3 linked regions of the Homo sapiens genome follow. The protein of the gene in region 2 binds, or shares a complex with, the protein of the main gene of each other region. Each region holds a gene or a part of one and is shown on either strand. Other genes may lie near its edges. A codon is read from its position in the direction of its gene.

Region 1 (4,285 bases), on a different chromosome or scaffold from region 2:
CCTCCCAGGTTCAAGTGCTTCTCCTGTCTCAGCCTCCTGAGTACCTGGGATTATAGGCATGCGCCACCATGTCCAGCTAATTTTTGTATTTTTAGTATAGACGGGGTTTCACCATGTTGGCCAGGCTGGTCTTGAACTCCTGACCTCAGGTGATCCGCCTGCCTCAGCCTCCCAAAGTGCTGGGATTACAGGCATGAGCCACCGTGCTCCGCCTGTTTGTTTCTTTTTTTGAGAAGGAGTCTCGCTCTTGTGTGGCCCAGGCTGGAGTGCAGTGGAGCGATCTCGGCTCACTGCAACCTCCACTTTGGGTTCAAGCGATTCTCCTGCCTCAGCCTCGAAGTAGCTGGGATTACAGGCATGTGCCACCACACCTGGTTAAATTTTGTATTTTTAGTAGAGACAGGGTATCGCAATGTTGGCTAGGCTGCTCTCAAACTCCTGACCTCAAGTGATCCGCCCGCCTTGGCCTCCCAAAGTGCTGGGATTACAGGCGTGAGCCACTGCTCCTGGCCCACCTGGCTAATTTTTGTATTTTTAGTAGAGATGGAGTTTCACCATGTTGGCCAGGCTGGTCTCGAAGTCCTGACCTCAGGTTATCCACCTGCCTCAGCCTCCCAAAGTGTTGTTGGGATTACAGGTGTGAGCCACTGCGCCAGGCCATGAACTTCTTTTGCCTGAGGATATTAATTATTGAATTTTTAAGTTTTTCTTTGTTCCTTGCGGCATCTCAGTTTCTTCTAGAATCCATTCCCCATTTGTTTTGTTCTGGACTTTGACTTTCATGTTGGAGAGTTTTATTCTGTGTCTGGTGAATATTTAAGAATAAATTGGCCGGGCGCGGTGGCTCACGCCTGTAATCCCAACACTTTGGGAGGCTGAGGCAGGCGAATCACGAGGTCAGGAGATTGAGACCATCCTGGCTAACATGGTGAAACCCTGTCTCTACTAAAAATACAAAAAATTAGCCGGGCGTGGTGGTGGGCGCCTGTAGTCCCAGCTACTCGGGAGGCTGAGGCAGGAGAATGGTGTGAACCCGGGAGGCGGAGGTTGCAGTGAGCCGAGATTGCGCCACTGTACTCCAGCCTGGGCGAAAGAGCGAAACTCTGTCTCAAAAAAAAAAAAAAGAATAAATCATTGCAAGCTGTGTGTGCATGCCTGGGCCTTATGAGCTGATAGACTTCACTATAAGGAGATTAGGTGGGAACCTGGTGATCTCTTTGTGGGGATTGGAAAGTCTTCCCTCTGGATGGGGGAGAAATTTGGCAGATGATCTAAGCATCTTCACACAGATTTTCATTCATTTCCCCTATATTCACTCTTGCCTCTGTGGTGCCTGTATCACCACTTCCTAAACCTTTCTGGGGTTCTGCTGTGTGGATCAGTTTGCATCCCTTGGGGGTCCCTTCTGTCAGCACTTGGTATTCAGCTCTCTTGAACTCTTAACTCTTCATCTTCTTTCTTTTTTTTTTTTTGAGACAGAGTCTCGCTCTGTCACCCAGGCTAGAGTGCAGTGGCGTGATCTCAGCTCACTGCAAGCTCTGCCTCCTGGGTTCAGGCTATTCTCCTGCCTCAGCCTCCCTAGTAGCTGGGACTACAGGCATCCACCACCACACTCGGCTAATTTTTTGTATTTTTAGTAGAGACAGGGTTTCGCCATGTTAGCCAGGATGGTCTTGATCTCCTGACCTTGTGATCCGCCCGCCTCGGCCTCTCAAAGTGCTGGGATTACAGGCGTAAGCCACTGCGCCCAGCCAACTCTTCATCTTCTATCTTCCAAAACTTCTGTGTTTGCATTTGGCTAGTGTTGTGTAGTTTCCAGTTCTTTCCTCTTGGGAGTTTTCTTTGTCAGTCTTTCCTCTTCTTTCCTTCATTTGTTTCTTAATTTCTTTTCTCTCATTTTGTAATATTTCAGGTGGAAGTGCAAATAAGCATGTGTTCAGTTTACTATGTTTAAGTGGAAGAACAAGTTCAAAGTCATGTTTATTAGACCAAATAATCCTCATTCCTGTTATCACTCCCCATACAGCAAAAATTTGTTGTCACTTTGTCATGTCACCAAATTTCTATTTTAGTTGCTTATATCTGGATATCCTCCACCTTCAGAACACTGTGTTTGCTGTTCTAAATGTGGGAGAATTATGGTTTTGTACAAATAATATATTTTCCTTTTCAGTATAATACCCTCTGATAAAACACAGTGTTTTGGCTGTGGCGGTTCATTGAGCTAGAAATTAAGTCCTGTAAGTCTATGTACACATCCCAGCAGGGTTCTTTTCAAAGAGCATTAGCTTCCCCCTGCCTTGTTCTTCTCTCCCACCATTCTTTGTCCTCACAGGCAGAGGAGATGCTGAAGAAGAAACCTCGGGCCACCACTGAGGTGAGCAGCAGGAAATGCCAACAAGCCCTGGCAGAACTGGAGAGTGTCCTCAGCCACCTGGAGGACTTCTTTGCACGGACACTAGTACCGCGAGTGCTGATTCTCCTTGGGGGCAATGCCCTAAGCCCCAAGGAGTTCTATGAACTCGACTTGTCTCTGCTGGCCCCCTACAGCGTGGACCAGAGCCTGAGCACAGCAGCTTGTTTGCGCCGTCTCTTCCGAGCCATATTCATGGCTGATGCCTTTAGCGAGCTTCAGGCTCCTCCACTCATGGGCACCGTCGTCATGGCACAGGGACACCGCAACTGTGGAGAAGATTGGTTTCGACCCAAGCTCAACTATCGAGTGCCCAGCCGGGGCCATAAACTGACTGTGACCCTGTCATGTGGCAGACCTTCCATCCGAACCACGGCTTGGGAAGACTACATTTGGTTCCAGGCACCAGTGACATTTAAAGGCTTCCGCGAGTGAATGAGTGCTTCTTAATCCTAAAAACACAATGGCTGAATTATCTTTCTCCATGTGGCGCTGAATCACCCATCTGGTTTGGAGCTAGAGTTGCTTCCTGGTGAGAGAGGAAGCAACTCTCCTTCTGGTTGTCTGCCTCCCCTCAGATTTCCTGATAGGCTGATGGCATGTGGCTGTGACTGTGACTGTAATCATTGCTGAACAACATCTCTTTGAATCAAAGGTTGATTTTCCCAGAGGGTGCTGGGTCAGGCATTTCTATTAGGAGTTGGAAAGCAAAAATGGGTCCATAGACACTCTATGGAGGTGTCCCTTTCTGCTCTTTGCTGTGTCCTTTCAGAATTTTTACCAGGAACATAATGTGGATGTGACTTATGAACTTAAATATAAAATAAATAGATTCTTATTATATTTTCCTGAAATTGTTTTGACTTAACTTGTCAGGTTTTAGGCTATTTTGTCTTTCTCCTTGGCCTCTTCTGCTTCAGGGCTTCTCGAATTTTTTTTTTTTTTCTTTTTTCTTTTTTGAGATGGAGTCTCGCTGTATCGCCCAGGCTGGAGTACAGTGGCACAATCTTGGTCGCTGCAACCTCCACCTCCCAGGTTCAAGGAATTCTCCTGTCTTAGCCTCTCGAGTAGCTGAGATTGCAGGTGTGCACCACCACGCCCAGCTAATTTTTGTATTTTTAGTAGAGATGGAGTTTCACCATGTTGGCCAGGCTGGTCTCGAACTCCTGCCCTCAAGTGATCCACCTGTCTTGGCCTCCCAAAGTGCTGGGATTACAGGTGTGGGCCACCGTGCCTGGCCTTAGGATTTTTTTACTAATGATTTTTTCTCTTGTTCAGCCCCAGGCTAGTCTAGGAAATTAAGTGACTTGGCCAAGTGCATATGTAGTTTGATAGCAGAGTTAGGACTAGAGTCCTCATTAGCTATCTTTTAGCCAACGTGCTTTTCTTATCCCATACAGATTTTTGTGATGCTTAAATTCTGTATCCCCCAAAGCAGAGGTCACCTTTATGTGGGAAGATTGTGGTAAGGAACTTAGCTTAGCAGGCCATTGAATGAGAGCAGTGATTTTGGGAAATAGTCTGGCTAGGTGCTTGGTTTGTAGTAAACTGTGAGCAGGTGTGTGCTGAATAGTGAGAGGGGAGGAGCCTCTGTGCCTGGCCAAACACCTCAGTTTTTGGAAGCAAGTTGAAGACAGAATCCACACCTTGCTGATGTTCGGGATAGGTATATGTGTGTGTATGTATAATATATAAATGGTATGTATAGTCCAGGTGGGTGACTCATGCCTATAATCCCAGCACTTTGGGAGGCCAAGGTGGGCAGATCGCCTGAGGTCAGGAGGGAGACCAGCTGGCCAACATGGTGAAACCCCATCTCTACTAAAAATACACAAAAAAAGGCTGGGCATGGTAGCTCATGCCTGGCATCCC
Region 2 (8,683 bases):
TTGTTCTGAACACTTTATTGCTAAAAGGATGTAAAGGGTAAGAGGAAAAAGGTGACGAAACACTCCTTTTGATATGCTTGTTGGGGAGTCAGGATGAACTTCCTTGGCTAGGGATAGAAGGAAGAGATCACCTAAACTTCAAAAACCACAATACAATTTGCATACTTCCTTGGCCAGGGATAGGAGAGACCACTAAACTTCAAAAACCACGACACAATTTGCATGCCCATTGACCCCCAGTTTTACTTGTGCACAAAAGCATGAGAATTAAATAAAAATTCATGTGAAGTGACTAGTAAATAATAAATGCTAAGTGTTTATTCCCCTAATGTATTTATATATTTGTTGCCAGGAATTCCAATGCTGAGTAACCTTGCTTTTCCAATAAGCTTACAGCCTTTAGAACCAAAAGAAAGTCATCTTAATTTGAATATTACAGCATTAGTGACATCTGGTGGAAAATATAAGAGTTACAAAGTAGCATTACATAGCTATTCTGATCTTTCATGTAAATTTTAGATAAATTTTACATACTAAATGAAAACAAGATGAAGAAATGGTCTATGAAGTTATCTACCTTATTGTGCTAATAATCTTTGAATCTATATGCTAAAATATATAGGAAGTCAGTATAATTAGCATTATACTAATAAAAACATTTTTCAGCATGCATGTCTATATAGTGAAAAAATGATTAAAAATAGGCATGGGCTCTTTATCCTATTGTGAGTCTCATAAAAAGGGTCTCTTTTTTAAAGGAGAGCCCATACCTCTCTTTTTATGGCATCACATGCCAAAGAACCTCCCTTAACAAGTTTTCAGATCAAATTGTGAACTGTGGGGTGTGTTAGGAAGTATGTCAAGAAAATAGCTGGTTGTGCTTCAGAGAATATGGAATTTAGGTATATTTGGGAGAGACATTCTGTTTGAGATACTATGGATGGAGGCAACAAACGATGTTTTACAAGTGAGCTTTAAATATTACGGTATCAAATGCTCTGAACTAGGGAGGGGTTCAAGTATTTGTGACCAAAAGAGCAAACTGTGATCTGTTACAGGACTGGTAAGCTACAACCCTGGGGCCGAAGCAAACAGCCATGTTTTTTTCTTATTGGAACACACTCACGCTCATTCATTTATGTATTGTCTATAGCTGCTTTCAGCCTCGAGTAGGTGCAAGAGACCATATGCCTTCAAAAGCAGAACTATTTACTACCTGGCCATTTACAGAAAGTTTGCCAACCTCTAGTCCATTAGATAACTGTCATCAAACTTCTCGGTGCCATTCCCACCACCTCCATGGGAGGAGTATACTTCCTGGTCCCATTAAAGTTAGGCTTGACCTTCACTTGCTTTGGTCAGTGTGAAAAAGCTGGCCTTCAGAGTCCTGACTAACCAATGTCCCTCCAACAGAATGAGAAAGGTGCAGCAAAAGCCAACCAATACATGAGACTGTTATACCTCTGCACAAGCATTCTCACAGAGGTTTGACTTCTCTGATTGATGACACTGGGAAAAGGATCCTGAAAGCCAGATACAGTTCAGTTCCTCCTGGGCTCTACTTCAGACCTTGATGGGCTTAACCTCTGTTCATCCTCTACATATGGTAAGCAACACTGAGCCAGAGTCCAGGCCAGGCCTAGAGGCCTATCATGCTGTCTTAGAACCTTCTCTTTAACATGGTGTAGAAACCACTCACAAGTCTTTCAGCTGTTGATTTAAACATCATCCTCCTGAGGTAAGCCTCAAGGTCTAGAAAGAGGATGGGACAGTCCACTTGGAGCTACAGGGCAAAGCTTTTCCAGTATAGCTTCACCTCAATAAAACTCATAGTTTGGCTCCCACTCAGCTCCAAAATGTGTATTTCTTTTTTATTTATTATTTTTTGAGATGGAGCCTTGCTCTGTCGCCCAGGCTAGAGTACAGTGGCACGGTCTTGGCTCACCGCAACCTCCACCTCATGGGTTCAAGCGATTTCTCCTGCCTCAGCCTCCCAAGTAGCTGAGATGCGCCCGCCACCACGCCCAGCTAATTTTTATATTTTTAGTAGAGACGGGGTTTGACCATCTTGGCCAGGCTGGTCTCAAACTCCTGATCTCGTGATCCACCTGCCTCGGCCTCCCAAAGTGCTGGGATTACAGGCGCGAGCCACTGCGCCCAGCCCAAAATGTGTATTTCTTAATTGATTATATAATCTGTAAGGGGTAAAATGACTCATCATGACTAGCTCTCCAGAAACCTCAGAGTAAATAGTAGCATGCAAATGATACAAAAATCTAAGAATTTAATCCTGTTAATATTGGTAGCTGAGTTGAAATGACCAGAGTATACACACAACCTTTAAAAATGTGATTTCAGCCGGGCGCAGTGGCTCACGCCTGTAATCCCAATGCTTTGTGAGGTCAAGGCGGGCAGATCATGAGGTCAGGAGTTCAAGACTAGCCTGGCCAACATGGTGAAACCCTCTCTCTACTAAAAATATAAAAATTAGCCAGGTGTGGTGGCACGTGCCTGTAATCCCAGCTACTCAGGAGGCTGAGACGGAAGAATGGCTGGAATCCGGGAGGCAGAGGCTGTAGTGAGCTGAGCTGCGTCACTGTACTCCAGCCTGGGCGACAGAATAAGACTCCATCTTGGGGGGGAAAAGTGATTTCGCAGAATTTAGTCTGACTTCTCAAATAGTTAAAATACAAATGAAGCATTTAATTGCCACTTTTCTTGAAATCATCTAGGTTGGTAACACCAGTGGTCCACTTATTCCATAAAGATATGAAGAGTCTACAAATTTGTCACTGAGAACCCAGAAACTGCCACTGATCCACAGTATTTGCTCAATATGTAATTTCTGAATGAACAGATTCAGACTATGTGCAATTACTTAAAAATAGTGAAGGTTAAATAAGTTAATACACATAAAGAACTTAGTGTCTAATAATAAACATTAATAAACTGAATTTTTACAAAATGAGGTCAGATTTAGATTAGAGATTAGAGAAGACTTTACAAATCTGCCTTAAACTGACCTTGGAAAAACAGGTGAGAACTGGATAGAAAGCATGTACCAGATGAGGGTATTAATGAAAGCACAGGAATAAGCATAGTATTTAAGTATATAAGGAAAAGTAGGCTGACAATAAGGCTAAGAGTATAGTAAAGTACTAAAATCAACACTTGTTCAACTGGAATTGTTGGACTAATTCCAAAGGACATTTATCTTTTCACAATGATGAAGTAATAGCCTTAAGTCTATTGCTATGAGATGAACAGGATGTGATCAAAGTTTATCCATTAGATTGAAGACACCTCAAGACTCACTCAACTTTGGACCCTTAAGTTCTATAACTTCGTAGGAACAAGAATTCATTAGCTATGCTGAATCAATTCTAATTACCATTTAACTATATCAACACCAAACCAGTATCAAAATGTTTTAAGACAAATTTAAAACAAACTTAACTTTATTTCCTCACTTTCACTTAAAACTTGATTTTATAAAACACATGAAAAAACATTTTTAAGAGTTCTGTATCACAGAACATTAAACAGTACAAATATCCATTGCTTCATAGGTTCAAGTTACATAAATTAAAGTCAAATAATTGGAAACTGATTCAATAGGGAAAACTATACATGAAATGAAGGTCAAAAGGAGCTATACAGCAATATTTCATTGTTTATAGATTATGAGTTACTTTCAGGACCTTAACAAAGATTCTGAATATTTAGACTTCCTTTGTTGTATTTTATACTTAAATATCTCCCTACCTATACTGAGTCAAACTACTTGACCAAAACATCTGATTTAGGAAAGCATCTAGCTTTATAGCACAAGTTTTTCCATCTACAGTTACTATCTTCAAAGGAATATACATCACAATGTTGACAAAAAAACCTCCTGGTTCCTTTTGAACAATGTGCAATAAATTCATGATGTTAACTCCATGGTAAGTCAAATAGGTACCAAAAAAATAAAAGGAACAATTACACACAGTTCAGTAAGTATCATTTTGGTTTTCTCCATGTAAAAATTAACCAATGAAATAAAACATATCAACTATAGATGACTTGATTTCAGGAAAACCACATTTCAAAATTACAATTACATTATTTTCCTCATGTCATCCTCAGTCATTGACAGGAATTTTGTAGGCCACCATGCTATTTACTTTGTGGATTGTAGTAGTAAATGAACGAAGGCGGACTTCCTCAGAATTGGTAATAAACTGTGGTCCCGACTCTTCCCATTTTTCAGGTACAACCAAATCTTTGTCTGTATAAATCAGCAGATCAAATGAACCTAAATTGGGGATAAGATCATTGAAGTATATTATTTTCTAAAAGTAAAACTAATCTTGCTGCCTCTCTTCTATTTTGAACCACTCACTGCTGGAAAAGGTCATTTGGCTTGGTCTCCAATCACTAGTTAATTTATTTTGCTCAATGAACATTTATTTCAGTAAAGAAAATATTGTATCTAACTTCCGTGCAATTTAGTGATTGTGTTCAAGTAACCCTTATCTTATTTAATAATGGTCCCAAAGCACAAGAATAGTGATGCCAGCATATTGTTATAATTGTTCCAGTTTATTATTAACTCTTACTATGCTTAATTTACATATTAAATTTTATCATAGGTATGTATGCATAAGAAAAAAACATTATATAGGGTTCATACTATCCATGGTTTCAGGTATTCACTGTGGGTCTCCCTGTGGAAAGGGAGACTACGATACATTACTTTTGCATGATAATGTTTTTCCTTCAATTTATATTACATAAATCTGATAAATAAGACAAAATTTAATAAAGGGGTGATTACGGCAGTAGCTTAGTCTTTTTGCCAATCAATTTAATTCAACAAGAAGTTGTATAATACTTACAAGAAACTTCCAACAGTGGCAGAAATGTCACCGTAGCTGTGATCTGTCTGATCACTGAACGGATTTCATCCTGGATAGCTTTCTGAGACTTTTCTCTGGGTGCACTGTCAAAAAAAAATCAAATCAATTAATTCATTTCAGGTCTTAACAAATTATTTCAAACATAGTGGTTAGATTATTTATCTGATTAAATGCTCTCAACATCAAATAAGCAGGGCTTATTTGAGAAAGGAGGTTTGTAAAAAATGTGAGTGAAAGTATCCTTCAGACCTACAACCTAGTAGGCACAACATTCATCCTTATTACTTCATTTATCCTGCCAGTCATCTTTTAGAGCTGGTCTTAGTGTCAGGTCATTTAGTATCAGATGACTAGAAAATTTGCCAATCACTTCAAGTTCAGGAAACTTCAGCATCTCTTGAAATAAAAATAAGTGATATCTAAAATATGTATTGGTATAATCATTTCAGCATTTTTAGTAATGCCTAAATGTCTAATTTCCTATTTTCTCAAATAAAACATTAAATTGTATATCAAATTATTTTATAAGCTAAAAATTTCCTAAAATACACCAAAGCCTTCAGAAGCAAACTACATTTCACTATAAGAAATGGTTCTCAGTTTATAGAAGAGCATGCCTAGGACAATGCATTTCTCTTCCAGGGAGTCTGGAACCTTCAGAAATTTATGAAGTGTCTTAGGAAGTAGATGGCATTAAAGGAAGTACAGCAGAGCTACATCTTAAATTGTGTGAGTCTAATATCATTCCTTATAGTTAAAAATATCTTAGAACAATTATTAAATGGTTCATCTAGTATATCATGTGTAGTTTTGTATATATCACCATAAATACTGTTTGAAAACTACTGATTTAGACTAAAGGCAATTATGTTAAAATTATATTATATATACAAATCAATGATATGCTAAACTGAGCACAATTCTTTTCCATAGGTGACTGAGGATATCTTAGAAAATATAAATTAGAAACAAACTATATTTTATATAAAACTAGTTCAATACAATTAGAACTCAATTAGTAATAAAAACAAGTTTTGAAAAAAAATATATCAAAGTAGAAATAATGTAATTCCTATTTACCTGTCATCTTTTGCAGTCTTGTCACACTCAATATCAAACTGCCATCTTTCCAGGACCTCACCACTTTCAATATTTGAGATAACTACAACCAGTTTCTGAACTGAACACTTGTATAACCAATCTGCAACATATAAAAAGGAAGGCATCTTTCTTGGTCCACTGCATCATAAAGTAGCTCTCTTCTCGGGTCCCACTCCCTATCCTCAGCAAATTCCTACCACTGCTATCTGGGACCTCCTCCTATGTGCAAGAAAATTTGCACCATCAATAATCTAACTTCTGTTTTCAAATTCTCAGTATCTGTATCAGGTACAGTAATTGGTGCTGAGGACAGAATACTGAACATGTGGTAGTTTCATCCTAATCCAACATAAAAGCATAGGAGATGGGCATTAATCTACTCATCACACCAATAAATGAGAAATTATCATTGTAATGGCTGCTATGAAAGAAAGATGTAAGATGCAATGAGAGCATAAAAAAAGGAAAATTTGAGCCACTCAGGGAGGTCAGAAAAGGTCTGAGTTTAGCTCTAGGGATAAACAGCATTAAATATGCAAAAGGATACGAAAGAAGATACAGGCCTCAAATACTGCCAAGGGAAGAGCATATAGAGGGCTGGAAGCAGCCCACTACAAGTGCAATCAAGAAACAAACAAACAAAATAAAACAAAGTAATCCTTGCAAGATTAACAGGAGCCAGACCATGCAAAGCCTGGTGGATCAAATTAAAAAAATATATACTTCAAGACCAGGGAAGTCATTACTGTGTGTGAACAGGATGTAAAGCAATTAGACTTGTATTTCAAAACTATCATTCTAGCCGTGATACGGAAAGTGGACTGGAGATGTTAAAGAGGGGATCTAGAGACACTAGTTAGTCAATCAGTAATTCAAGCAAGAGTTAATGAAAGCTTGTAGGAGGATAAACTGGTAGATATGGAGCAATAGGTAGATTTAAGAGATTTCATGGTTAAAACGTATTGGGTTTAGTCACGATAGTAAGGAAGAAGCATGATTCAGGGACAGCTTCCAAGTTTCTTTTATTTCTGGCTGGACGGTTTAGTCATTCATTGAGAGAAAAAAAGAGAATTAAAGAGTATCAGTCTTGGAGATGATCCTAAATTTAGTTTTTAGTATACTTGAGTGTACATTGTCTCTGGGATAGCTACATAAAGATATAGCTGCTGGATATATGAGTCTGGAGAAAGAGGCTTGGGATAGATGTAAGTTTGTGAGCTGACTACACAGAGGTTGTTAGTGAAGCTATACACAGGTCAGAGATCACCTATAGAGAAATTATAAACACAGAACGGGGGCTCAGATTGAGCCTTGAAGTAATCTTGGAAATTGAAACAGCATATTCAGGAGTCAGCGAAGTTTTTGTAAAGAAACAGAGTAATTACTAAATATTTTAGGCTTATTGGCCACCAAGATCTCTGTTGCTTATTTTTAAACAAACCTGTAAGTGTAAAAACACTCTTAGCTTGTGGGCAGTGCAAAAACAGGCCACTTGTTGGATGTGGCCTGTGGGCCTTGTGATCCCTGGCATTTATCAACAACTTTTTATTAGTTTCACTCTGAAAAGGAGACTGGGTGGTAATTTGCTCTTCCTTTAAAACTGGAGAGATGAAACCAATGGGGATAATTAAAATCAAAACACAGAAGCAGAAAATATAAGAGAGAACAGGATAAAGACCCTGAAAAAGGCTAGAGGAAATTACATTCAAAACAAAACAATTGGCCAGCAAAACAAAACATGAGCAGCCACTCATGCCTGTAATCCCAGCACTTTGGGAGGCAGAGGTGGGTGGATCACGAGGTCAGGAGTTCGACACCAGCCTGGCCAAGATGGTGAAACCCTGTCTCTAGTAAAAATATAAAAATTAGCCAGGCACGGTGGCAGGCGCTTATAATCTCAGCTACTCGGGAGGCTGTGGTGTGGGGGCAGAGGTTGCAGTGAGCGGAGATCACGCCACTGCACTCCAGCCTTGGTGCCAGAGTGAGACTCCAAACAAAAAACAAACCGAACAACTTGCCTCTAGGGAAGAGCAATTTTTCCACTTTAACTAAAATAAAAGGGACAAGTTAAATAGGAAGGTCTAGACACAAATAAGGTGAAATGTCATTAACGCAGTCTCAAAGGAGACAACCTAAAAACCATTGGCTTAGGCAATGCTTGCTTCTCCAGCAAATTAAGATAAAAACACACATCCATAGTTGTCTAGAGGTTCCAGGCCAAACGACCTGAGTACAGCCCTATGAATCACTATAGATGATTTATTCCTGACCCCCAATTTTGGATGCAACTCTGGGAGAGGTGGACACTCTTATCAGTGTCTTTCCTGTGTACACTTGAGAACAGAGGTCTATTCCCACACCAAAAGAGGTCTCATCTTGCTATTTTGACAATACCAATCTACTATAGCAGAAGTTCTCAACCAAGGGCAGTTTTGTCCCCTAGGGCACATCTGGCAATATAATACATGGAGGCATTTCTGGTTGTCAGAGCAAGGGGGTTTGTTACTGGCATTTGGTGAGTAAAGGCCATAGTTGTTGGTAAACATTCTATAACACACAGAAAAGCACCCACACCAAAGCAAAGAAAAGCACCCATACCAAAGAAATACCCAGGCCAAAATGTCAACAGGGCTATCTTCCCTTGCCTGTTAATTTGAGACCTGACATCCACAGGTTGTTGT
Region 3 (8,683 bases), on a different chromosome or scaffold from region 2:
CAGGTGCACCTCGATGAGCTCGCCCACGGTGTGTGAGAACTCTGTCTCCAGTAGCTGCATCTTGGAACCCGAGGGGCTGGTGGCCTGCGGGGCAGTCAAGAAAGAGACAAGACAGCGGTCAGCCCGACAGGCCTCTCCCTCTCCCCTCCCTCCCTACACAGCCCCTCCAGCCATGGGGGCTTCCCTCAGTCTGAGGACCTGGACAGGGGTAGATGCGTCCTCAACCCTGCCAGGCCTTATTCCAGGTCACCTAAAGGGACTGAATTAACCCAGGGCAAGGTCTCTGTTGTCTACACTGTCATCTACCCAGGCAGTTGGGGGTCCCAGGCACTGTGGGGTGTGCCCACCCAAGGGGCTGCCACCTTGCTCCTTCCTCCACCTGGGGGGCTCCAGCACCTGTGCCAGGCCCTAGTGCCACTCTTCACTGAGGCTGGAGGACCCCACGCCCTGGGCAAGTCCTGCAACGCCTTCCACACTGCCTGGGCCCCATGACCTAGTTTCCCCACTTGTGCAGGGGGGCGCTGGGGGCCCAGGGGGAGTCTGGCTCTGTGGATTCTGCAGCCCAGAGGGCGGCCTCCTGTAACTGGAGAACGGGCAAGGAGGAGCTTCCAGACAGCGCTGCAGGCCCCAGGGGACACAGGGCAGGAGTCACACAGCAGGTCTGAGCAAGCTGCTGTGCCACGGTCCTGGGCTGTGTGGGGAGTGGACAGAGGCCCTTCTGAGCTGCCCCCGAGAGCCAGCCCCACCCCGGTCAGCACCCACACAGCCCCAGGTCAGGCAGGACACAAACCCGGCCCACCACAAAGCTCCCTCTGAAACCACGTCCCTGAAAAGTCCTGTACCCAGAATATGCCCAGAACTCCCACAACTCCACCATGAAGAGGAAAGAGCCAATTAAACAAGGGGCCCTTGAACATTTCTCCAGAGAAGAGCCACACACGGCCAATGAGCTCATGCCAGGACGCTGGGCACCGGGGAAACGTGAACCGCAACTGAGCGAGACACGGAGCCGCCTCGCGCCGACGGCCACTGAGAGCAACCACCATGAGCTGCTGGGTCGAGGGGAATCAGACCCTCCGCGTCGCTGGCGGGAGCGTGTGTGGTGCGGCCACTGCAAACAGCCGGCAGCTCCTCAAAGAGCTGGACGCAGAGTCCATGGGCCCAGCACCCGCCCGGGCGCGCAGCCAGGGGGTCTGAGCGCAGTCCACGCACAGACCTCGGCACGGGTGTCCACGGCAACACGATCCCATCACCAACAGATGGAACGCGGAACCAGCCCTCAACCGCCGGAGGGAGACACAAAACCGGGTTTACCCGTCAACACCGCTTCGTACAGCCGAACTCTGATACACGCTGCCACGCGGGCAAACCCCGAAAACACGCCCAGCCAGTCACAGAGACCTGTCGACACAACTCCGTGCCCAGGGGATGTCCTGGAGGGGCACGTCAGGGCTCAGGGCCAGTGGAAATGTGCCACGGTTAGACTGGTCGCGGCTGCGCACTGAATGTGCCGGGAGGAACGGAACGGTAGACTAATGGAGCGCTAGACGTGAGGGTGAGCTGCATGTGTGTGCATCGGAGCTCAGGAAACCGTTTTGGAAAGCGCTCCCTCCGCCCGGCAGCCCTCTGGGAACCCTCCCCAGGAGCCACAGGGCGGCCTGGCTCCATCCAGCTTGGTCCTGGCAGCTCCCCTGTCCACCGGAGCATGCCTGGGCTGGGCCCCGCCCTGATGGTGTCGCCCCTCCCCTCACCACCTTTGGAGCACGTGCTGCCCCAGAGGCCCTGCGACCTGACCTGTTCCTGCACCTCCTGTTTCTCAGGAGCCGTCCCCGTGCCCTCCCCCTGCCCTCCCCCTGTTTCTGCTGCCTTAGTACATTTGGCCTTGTCATAGTTCAACACAAACCATTTTTAAACAAAAACAAGAGAAACCACTCTGACCTTTCGCTGAGAAAATCCTTTCACTTCTGCCTTCTGCTCTTGATTCTGAATTTCTCCCCCTAAATGTCAGAGGGGCTGATTCTCCTGCAGCTGCCGGGCAGGGGTGGGGAGGCAGTGTGGGAAGAAGTCTCCTCAGCCGGCCCTTCGCCCTCCTCCCAACCCAGGGCTGGCAACCTGGCTGGGCCTGACGCACTGTGGTGCAGACTCTGGCCAGGCTGGACCAGAGAATAGCTGTTTTCCAGGCACCCGCCTTCCCCGGCCCTCAGAGGCTGGCAGGCTTTGGGAGCCTGGCCGTTCATTTCTAAAAATATTTTTTTTTAGAGACGAGTCTCACTCTGTCACCCAGGCTGGAGTGCAGTGGCATGATAACGGGTCACTCAGCCTCGAGCTCCCGGACTCAAGTGATCCACCTCAGCCTCCTGAGCAGTTGGAATGACAGGCATGTGCCAGCACACCTGGCTAATTTTTAAATTTTTTTGAGAGATAGATAGACTTTAGCTATTTTGCCCAGGCTGGTCTCAAACTCCTGGCCTGGCTGGTCTCAAACTCCTGGCCTGACGTGATCCTCCTGCCTCAGCTGCCCACGACGTGAGGATTACAGGCGTGAGCTCTGATCATTCTTTATTTGAAACAGGTGCACCCCGCCAGCGTCAGCAAGACAGCTGCTCCCAATGGTAGGCCGGGCAACCCACTCACGGCTCCTACAGCACCTCCTCTCTGCCGGCCTCAGGCGGCTCTGGAAGAATGATGCCCTAATATACCGCGCTGCCCTCCAGGTGGGGGTGGGGGTGGACGGAGACAGGCAGGAGTAACCAGTGCTACTCTCCCAGCTCAAACCCCACACGAAGGCAGACCCAGCGTTTGCAAAACACCAGCCCCCGGTGAACAAGTCGACCTGCTGTGCAGCCCACCTCTGACTCCGTTTCCCCCAGCGTACCCAGCCACATTGGGAGGCTCCACCTCGGTCTAACGCTCCGGCATTAGCAGGACCTGCTGAATGAGTGGCGCCGGGCCCATCCATCTCTGCCATCGCTGCTCAGCCCTCTGCCATGTTCAAATATCACACAGTCCCCAGGTACCTCGTAAATCACTGTAATTACGGGCTGCTCACTTAAAATTAAACTGCAATTTTTTAAAAAGCAAATTGCCAGTAAGACACGTTGGCTGTGGCTGGAAATACTTCTGAGGCTGCCTGCGCGCAGGCTCTGGCTTCCTCTCCCTCTGCCTGGCCGGCCCGAGCTGCCACCTGTCTAGTCTGCGCACATAGCGGCCCTGTGGCTGGCGGGCGCCCTGGGGGAGACTGAGACACTCACTCTTAATGAAGACACTCGCGGCGTCCATTGTGGCCACTGCACTCTAGTCCAGACCCTCGCTGGCCTGGCCTGGGGCTCACCTGCCCCTCTGGAAGCAGAGAGGGCCTGCCCTGGAGGGCCGGGGACCTCTGCAGCATGTCCGTGGAACACGTGGGCCAGGGATTGTGTGCCCGGCCCCCATTCCAGCTCTGCCACGTGAGCAGTGCTCACTCGGTGCCTAGGGCTGACTAGTCTTACTAAGCGCTGGTCCCACCATCCCCTGAGCCGAGCCCCATGGTGTCCCAGCGGGCACGGACAAGAGGCACGGAGTGAGGGAGGGGTGGGGGCTGACAAAGGGCTTGGAGAGCAGAGACAGCGCACACCACCAACTCTCTCCACACACCACTTTCTCCACACACCACCAACCGCAGGATGTGGTGGGGCTCGGAGGCCAAGGGGGAAGTGTGAGGGATTCCTGTCAAGAACAAGACCCCCTGCTGCTGAGGGTCCAAGAGAAACTCCATGAACTGGGAAACTCGAGGGGAGGAAGCTAGAGATGGAATGAAGGAAGCCCTGAATCCTGGCTCAAACAAGGAAAGCTGAAATAATGCAGTAAAATGAGAAGACACGCAGGAAATGGAAACGATGCTACTTCGAGATACTGGGAAGTTATGTGAATGCTGTTCATCTGTGGGGTGGCGTGAAGAGGTGGAGGCCACACCAGTGGACATCAAAACCAGAAACCAGTCAGAGAAAGACAACAGGAAAACTGTAAGTGCCTGGAAATTAAACAGCACACTTCTAAGTAATCCACGAGTCAAATGGGATGCCTCGAAGGAAATAAAAAAGAGAACAGAATGGAAACAAGAATACAGCATAATGAAATTTGCCAGACGCACCCAAGGCAGTGCTTAGAGGGAAACGGACAGCACTCAATGCCTGTATCAGGAAAGGAGAAAGATCTCAAATCGCTTCTCTAAATTCCTACTTCAAGAAACGAAGGGAAAAACAAGCCCGAAGCAGGAGGAGGAAATAATACAAGTAGGAATGAACAGGAAAACAAAAGTTATTAAAACCAAAAACTGCTTCTTTAAAAAATAGCAATAAGGCCGGCCAGGAGCAGGGCTCACACCTGTAATCTTTGCACTTTGGGAGGCCAAGGTGAGAGGATCACTTGAGCCCTGGAGTTTGAGACCAGCCTGGACAACACAGTGAGACCCCATCCCTATAATCAATCAGCCAGGTGTGGTGGCATACACCTGTAGCCCCAGGTATGTGGGATCACGTGGGCCTAGGAGTTTGAGGCTGTAGTGAGCTATGATCACACCACTGCACTCCAGCCTGGGCAACAGAGTGAAACCCTGTCTCAAAAATTTGTTAGAAAGACCAGCAACGATAAATTGATAAACCCCTGGCAAAACTGACAAAGATTAAAAAGGGGGAACGCCTGTAATCCCAGCACTTTGGGAGGCCGAGGTGGGCGGATCACGAGGTCAGGAGATCAAGACCATCCTGGCTAACACAGTGAAACCCCATCTCTACTAAAAATACAAAAAATTAGCCGGGTGTGGTGGCGGGTGCCTGTAGTCCCAGCTCCTTGGGAGGCTGAGGCAGGAGAATGGCATGAACCCAGGAGGCGGAGCTTGCAGTGAGCCGAGATCGTGCCACTGCACTCCAGCCTGAGCAACACAGCGAGACTCCATCTCAAAAAAAAAAAAAGGGGGGGGGGAGAGTGAAATGACCAATATCAGAAATGAAATGGAAATATTATAATAGATCCAGAAGCTATTAAAATAACAATAAAAAATACTACAACAAAACTTGATGCTCATAACAAACTGGATGGATTCCTCGAAAACCACATACTACCAAAACGTGCCAAGATAAAATAGCCTCGGTAGTCCTATAACCATTAAATAAATCAAGTTTGTTCTAATTAAAATGCTACTCAAAATCTCCAGTCCCAGATGGTTTCACTAGAAAGTTTTACCGAACATTAAATATGAATTAATACCAATTTTACACAATCCTTTTTCAGTTAACAAAAGACAGAGAAACACCTTTCCACTATGAACCCTGTACTGAAACCAACAAGGATGGTGCGCACACAAAGAAAAATAAGTATCAGTCTCTCATGAGCTTAGCTGCAAAAATACTCAACAAGGACTAACAAATGGAATCCAGCAACACACGAAAAAGAGTATCACACCCTGACCAAGTGGGATTCAGTTTAGGTGTACAACGACGGCTAGTTCAAATTTGAAAATCAATCAATGTTATCCACCCTATCAACAGGCTAAAGGAAGACAATGATATGATCCTATTGGCACAGGCAAAGCATTTGAAAAAATTTAATCTCCATTCCTGACAAGAACTCTTGCAAAGCAGGAATCAAGGGAAAGTCCTCCGACTTGGTAAAAAGCACCACGAAGAACCCTCAGCTCACGCTGCTTCACGGAAGAGTCTGGCCGCCTTCCCTCATTCGGTCAGCGGAGAGCTGGCTTTCCCCACTCATCCTCAACCCAGCATGGGAGCTCCTCACGCCAGGGCATGCAGGTAAGAAAAGGAAAGCAGCAGCATAGGGATTGGAAAAGAACAGAACTGTCCCTACTCGGAAATCACATGACGGCACACGTGGAAAACCCTAAGCAATCTGCAGAAAACTCCTAGAATGACGTGACGGCCCACGTGGAAAATCCTGAGCAATCTGCAGAAAACTCCTGGAACACTAAGTGAGTCCACGAAGGTTGCAGGAAATAAGATGAACATACAAAAATTAACCACATTTCTATAAAGCAATTGCAAACAAGTGAAAAACAAAATTAAAAGGCAATATAATTTACAGAACATCTTAAATACTCGGGTATACATCTAACAAAAACTTGTATAGTGTCTGTTTGCAGAAAGTTAGGAAATACTGATGAAAGGAATCGAAAGGAATAAAAAGAATGTTTGTATAAATAGATACAATGTTTATGAACTGGAAGACTTATAGTAAATCAATTTTTCCAAAATTGATCTTTGGTTTTAAGGTAATTGCTGTCCAAACCTCAGCATATATATATATATTTTTTTTTTTTTTTTGGAAAGAGGGTCTTATTCTGTCACCCAGGCTGGAGTGCAGTGGTGTGGTCTTGGCTCACTGCAGCCTCAGGCAATCTTCCTGCCTCAACGTGCCAAGTAGCTGTAACTACAGGTGCGCACCACCACTCATGGCTGTATTTTTTTCATAGAGATGGGGTCTCCCTGTGTTGCCCAGGCTGGTCTCCCAACTCCTGGGCTCAAGCGATCCTTTTGCCTTGGCTTCCCCAAGTGTTGGGATTACAGGCGTGAGCCACCATGCCCGGCCAGCATTTTTTTTTTTTTTTTTTGGTAGAGAGACACAAGATTATTCTAAAATGTATATAGAAAGCAATTCCAAAAAAGAAGAGTAGAGGAATTGCCCTTCCTGATGTTGAGAACCGTACAGCTACAGCACAGCGTTATACGGCTCCTACGTCAGACAGACATGGCTGGGGCAGCGCTGGAGGGGAGATGTGGAGACCAGCAGAACAGAACAGAGGAACTCGAAAGAGACCCACAGACGCGTCCAGGCCACTTTCTAACAGAGAATATTATGCCGTGACCAAGTGGGACTTCGTTTAGGTGTACGAGGCTAGCTTGGTATTTGAAAATCAATCAATGTAATCTGCTATATCAACAGGCTAAAGAATAAACAACATATGACCCTATTAATCGATACGGAAAAGTCACAGAAAAGTCACAAAGGCGCTTCAGTGGAGGAAGGGCAGCCTTGTCTTTGCTACAGCTGGAGCCGGAGGAGCTGGACACACTTAGTTAAAAAAAAATTTTTTTGACCGAAACCTCACATCTCAAATAAAATTTAACTCAAACTGTATCACGAACTTACATGTAAAACACAGAATTATGTTAAAAAAGAAATCTTCAGGATCTGGATGAGGCAGAGCTCTGACACTCAACACCAAAGCACAATCCACAGAATAAAATTAAAATGGATAAATGGGCCTCGCCAAAATTTTAGGAAATTGCACAGTGGAAGAGCCTGTGAAGCAGATACAAGGATAAGCTACACGACAGGGCGCCAGCGTCTCCCTGCCCATCTCTCCTAGAACGCCACGGCCACAGGGGACCCTGGCACCTGGAGGGGTGACTGCAGCGTCTTAACCCCAAGTGGGATTCCTGCCTGTGCCCTGGCCCCACAGGGCAAGGCCCACATCTGTCTTGCTTCTCTCTTTTCCCAGAACAGACCTCACCAGGCTGGAGAGTGGCCTGGGCACAGAGGCCGGGCCTGTGGCATCAGCGGCCATCGTGAGGGCAGAGCGCCCAGGCATTCTCAGACACACCCCTGCTCCCACTGGCCTTCCTGGGAGAAGCACCCCCTTGTTCCAGATGAGAAGCCGCAGCTGCTGGGCCGGGGGAGGCATGAATATTTCATGCTTGGATCTGCAAGCGCCACGCACCTAACTGGACACAGCTCCAGGCGCCTGCTTCCCTGAAGCCCAATCCTCCTGTCATTGGTGTGCTGCAAGCGCCGCTCCGGAGCAGGGCTCTGTGTGGGGAGAGGAAAGGAGCCCTCGGGGGAAGTTATGCTGGGAGCCCATTTGTGGGGGGACGGAGAGCGGGAAGCAAGGTCCATGAGGATGGGGTGTCCTGCAGCTGGGTCCTGACCGGGGGCTGCTCCCTCTCCTGGGCCTAGGCACTGCAGGAAAATGGCAGGTAGTCAGCCTGCCACCACCTCCCGGCCACCAGCACACACCCTCAACAGACCTTCCAGATAGACGGCTCAATCCTGACTTGAGCACTGCCGGCCCCAACGCCTCCCCTCTTACACCACCTGCTTGTGCGGGCCTGGTGGCAGAGCTGCCGACATCGGGGGCTTTCGCACCCACCAGAACTAGCTTCTAACCTCGGCTTGGCCACCAGGAAGCTGCGTGACCCTGGGCACACCGACACACCTCTCTTGAGCCTGGTCTGCACGCTGGGCATTGCCGAGAAGACTAACGAAGTCAGGTGCGTAAAATCACCGGGCTCAGGGGAGACACAGAGCACAGTGGGATGAGGAAACCCTGTGCCCACGTTACCCCGGGCCATGAGGACAGCAGCTGCCCCGTGCCCTGGCGCCATCGGATGGCCTCTACTGGGAAGTGAGCTGCTCCCGGCCTTGTCCCCACCTCGCTGCAGCAGGACTGGTTGTCTGCCAGGCCCCGGAGCCCCCAGGCTTCCCACAGAGGCTCCCCCACCAGGACCCGCGGGAGAGGAGAGGGGCGTGCCTGGATGGCATCTGCCGGGGCAGCCATAGGTCCCTGTGAACCTCGCTTGTAGAATACACCTGCTCTCAAAGCCAGCGAAGGGGAGATTTTTTTTTGTCTTGAGGCTGTCAGGAAATCAAAGTGTTTTCAACTTCAAAAGACTCTCCGGGCGTCTCAAGTTGA

What was found.
Region 1: the proteins of MAD2L1 (region 2) and MAD2L1BP are in contact, whole or in part, in a crystal structure (PDB 2QYF), measured with the Homo sapiens proteins. Residues at the interface, in NP_002349.1 of Homo sapiens: Tyr33, Arg45, Thr52, Leu54, Lys122 (codon at 4,962), Asp126 (codon at 4,950), Glu127 (codon at 4,947), Arg129 (codon at 4,941), Ser130 (codon at 4,938), Arg133 (codon at 4,929), Gln134 (codon at 4,926), Thr136 (codon at 4,920), Ala137 (codon at 4,917), Thr138 (codon at 4,914), Thr140 (codon at 4,908), Phe141 (codon at 4,905), Leu142 (codon at 4,902), Leu144 (codon at 4,896), Glu179 (codon at 4,208), Val181 (codon at 4,202), Arg182 (codon at 4,199), Leu183 (codon at 4,196), Arg184 (codon at 4,193), Tyr199 (codon at 4,148), Asp205 (codon at 4,130); in NP_055443.1 of Homo sapiens: Pro61, His79, Tyr82, Gln83, Gln85, Pro88, Leu89, Pro90, Gln93, His96, Ala185 (codon at 2,576), Leu187 (codon at 2,582), Arg188 (codon at 2,585), Phe191 (codon at 2,594), Arg192 (codon at 2,597), Phe195 (codon at 2,606), Asp198 (codon at 2,615), Ala199 (codon at 2,618), Phe200 (codon at 2,621), Ser201 (codon at 2,624), Glu202 (codon at 2,627), Leu203 (codon at 2,630), Gln204 (codon at 2,633), Ala205 (codon at 2,636).
Region 3: the proteins of MAD2L1 (region 2) and MAD1L1 are in contact, whole or in part, in a crystal structure (PDB 1GO4), measured with the Homo sapiens proteins. Residues at the interface, in NP_002349.1 of Homo sapiens: Tyr38, Leu61, Tyr64, Asn67, Val68, Trp75 (codon at 6,100), Gln82 (codon at 6,079), Lys83 (codon at 6,076), Ser89 (codon at 6,058), Ile91 (codon at 6,052), Glu92 (codon at 6,049), Ser93 (codon at 6,046), Gly94 (codon at 6,043), Arg99 (codon at 6,028), Gln101 (codon at 6,022), Ser150 (codon at 4,295), Phe151 (codon at 4,292), Asp152 (codon at 4,289), Leu153 (codon at 4,286), Leu154 (codon at 4,283), Ile155 (codon at 4,280), Tyr156 (codon at 4,277), Thr157 (codon at 4,274), Asp158 (codon at 4,271), Lys159 (codon at 4,268), Asp160 (codon at 4,265), Leu161 (codon at 4,262), Val163 (codon at 4,256), Lys166 (codon at 4,247), Trp167 (codon at 4,244); in NP_001013858.1 of Homo sapiens: Glu527, Arg528, Ala530, Leu531, Gln532, Gly533, Asp534, Tyr535, Gln537, Ser538, Arg539, Thr540, Lys541, Val542, Leu543, His544, Met545, Ser546, Leu547, Asn548, Pro549, Thr550, Ala553, Arg554, Leu557.

What each region holds. Positions count from the first base shown.
Region 1 is NC_000006.12:43,637,686-43,641,970, forward strand, and holds the end of MAD2L1BP (MAD2L1-binding protein), read left to right. Parts: intron 1-2,335; coding exon 2,336-2,848; 3' UTR 2,849-3,256; downstream 3,257-4,285. UniProt on the Homo sapiens protein: May function to silence the spindle checkpoint and allow mitosis to proceed through anaphase by binding MAD2L1 after it has become dissociated from the MAD2L1-CDC20 complex.
Region 2 is NC_000004.12:120,055,994-120,064,676, forward strand, and holds part of MAD2L1 (mitotic spindle assembly checkpoint protein MAD2A), read right to left. Parts: intron 6,103-8,683; coding exon 5,982-6,102; intron 4,985-5,981; coding exon 4,881-4,984; intron 4,298-4,880; coding exon 4,125-4,297; 3' UTR 1-4,124. UniProt on the Homo sapiens protein: Component of the spindle-assembly checkpoint that prevents the onset of anaphase until all chromosomes are properly aligned at the metaphase plate.
Region 3 is NC_000007.14:1,816,145-1,824,827, forward strand, and holds part of MAD1L1 (mitotic spindle assembly checkpoint protein MAD1), read right to left. Parts: intron 85-8,683; coding exon 1-84. UniProt on the Homo sapiens protein: Component of the spindle-assembly checkpoint that prevents the onset of anaphase until all chromosomes are properly aligned at the metaphase plate.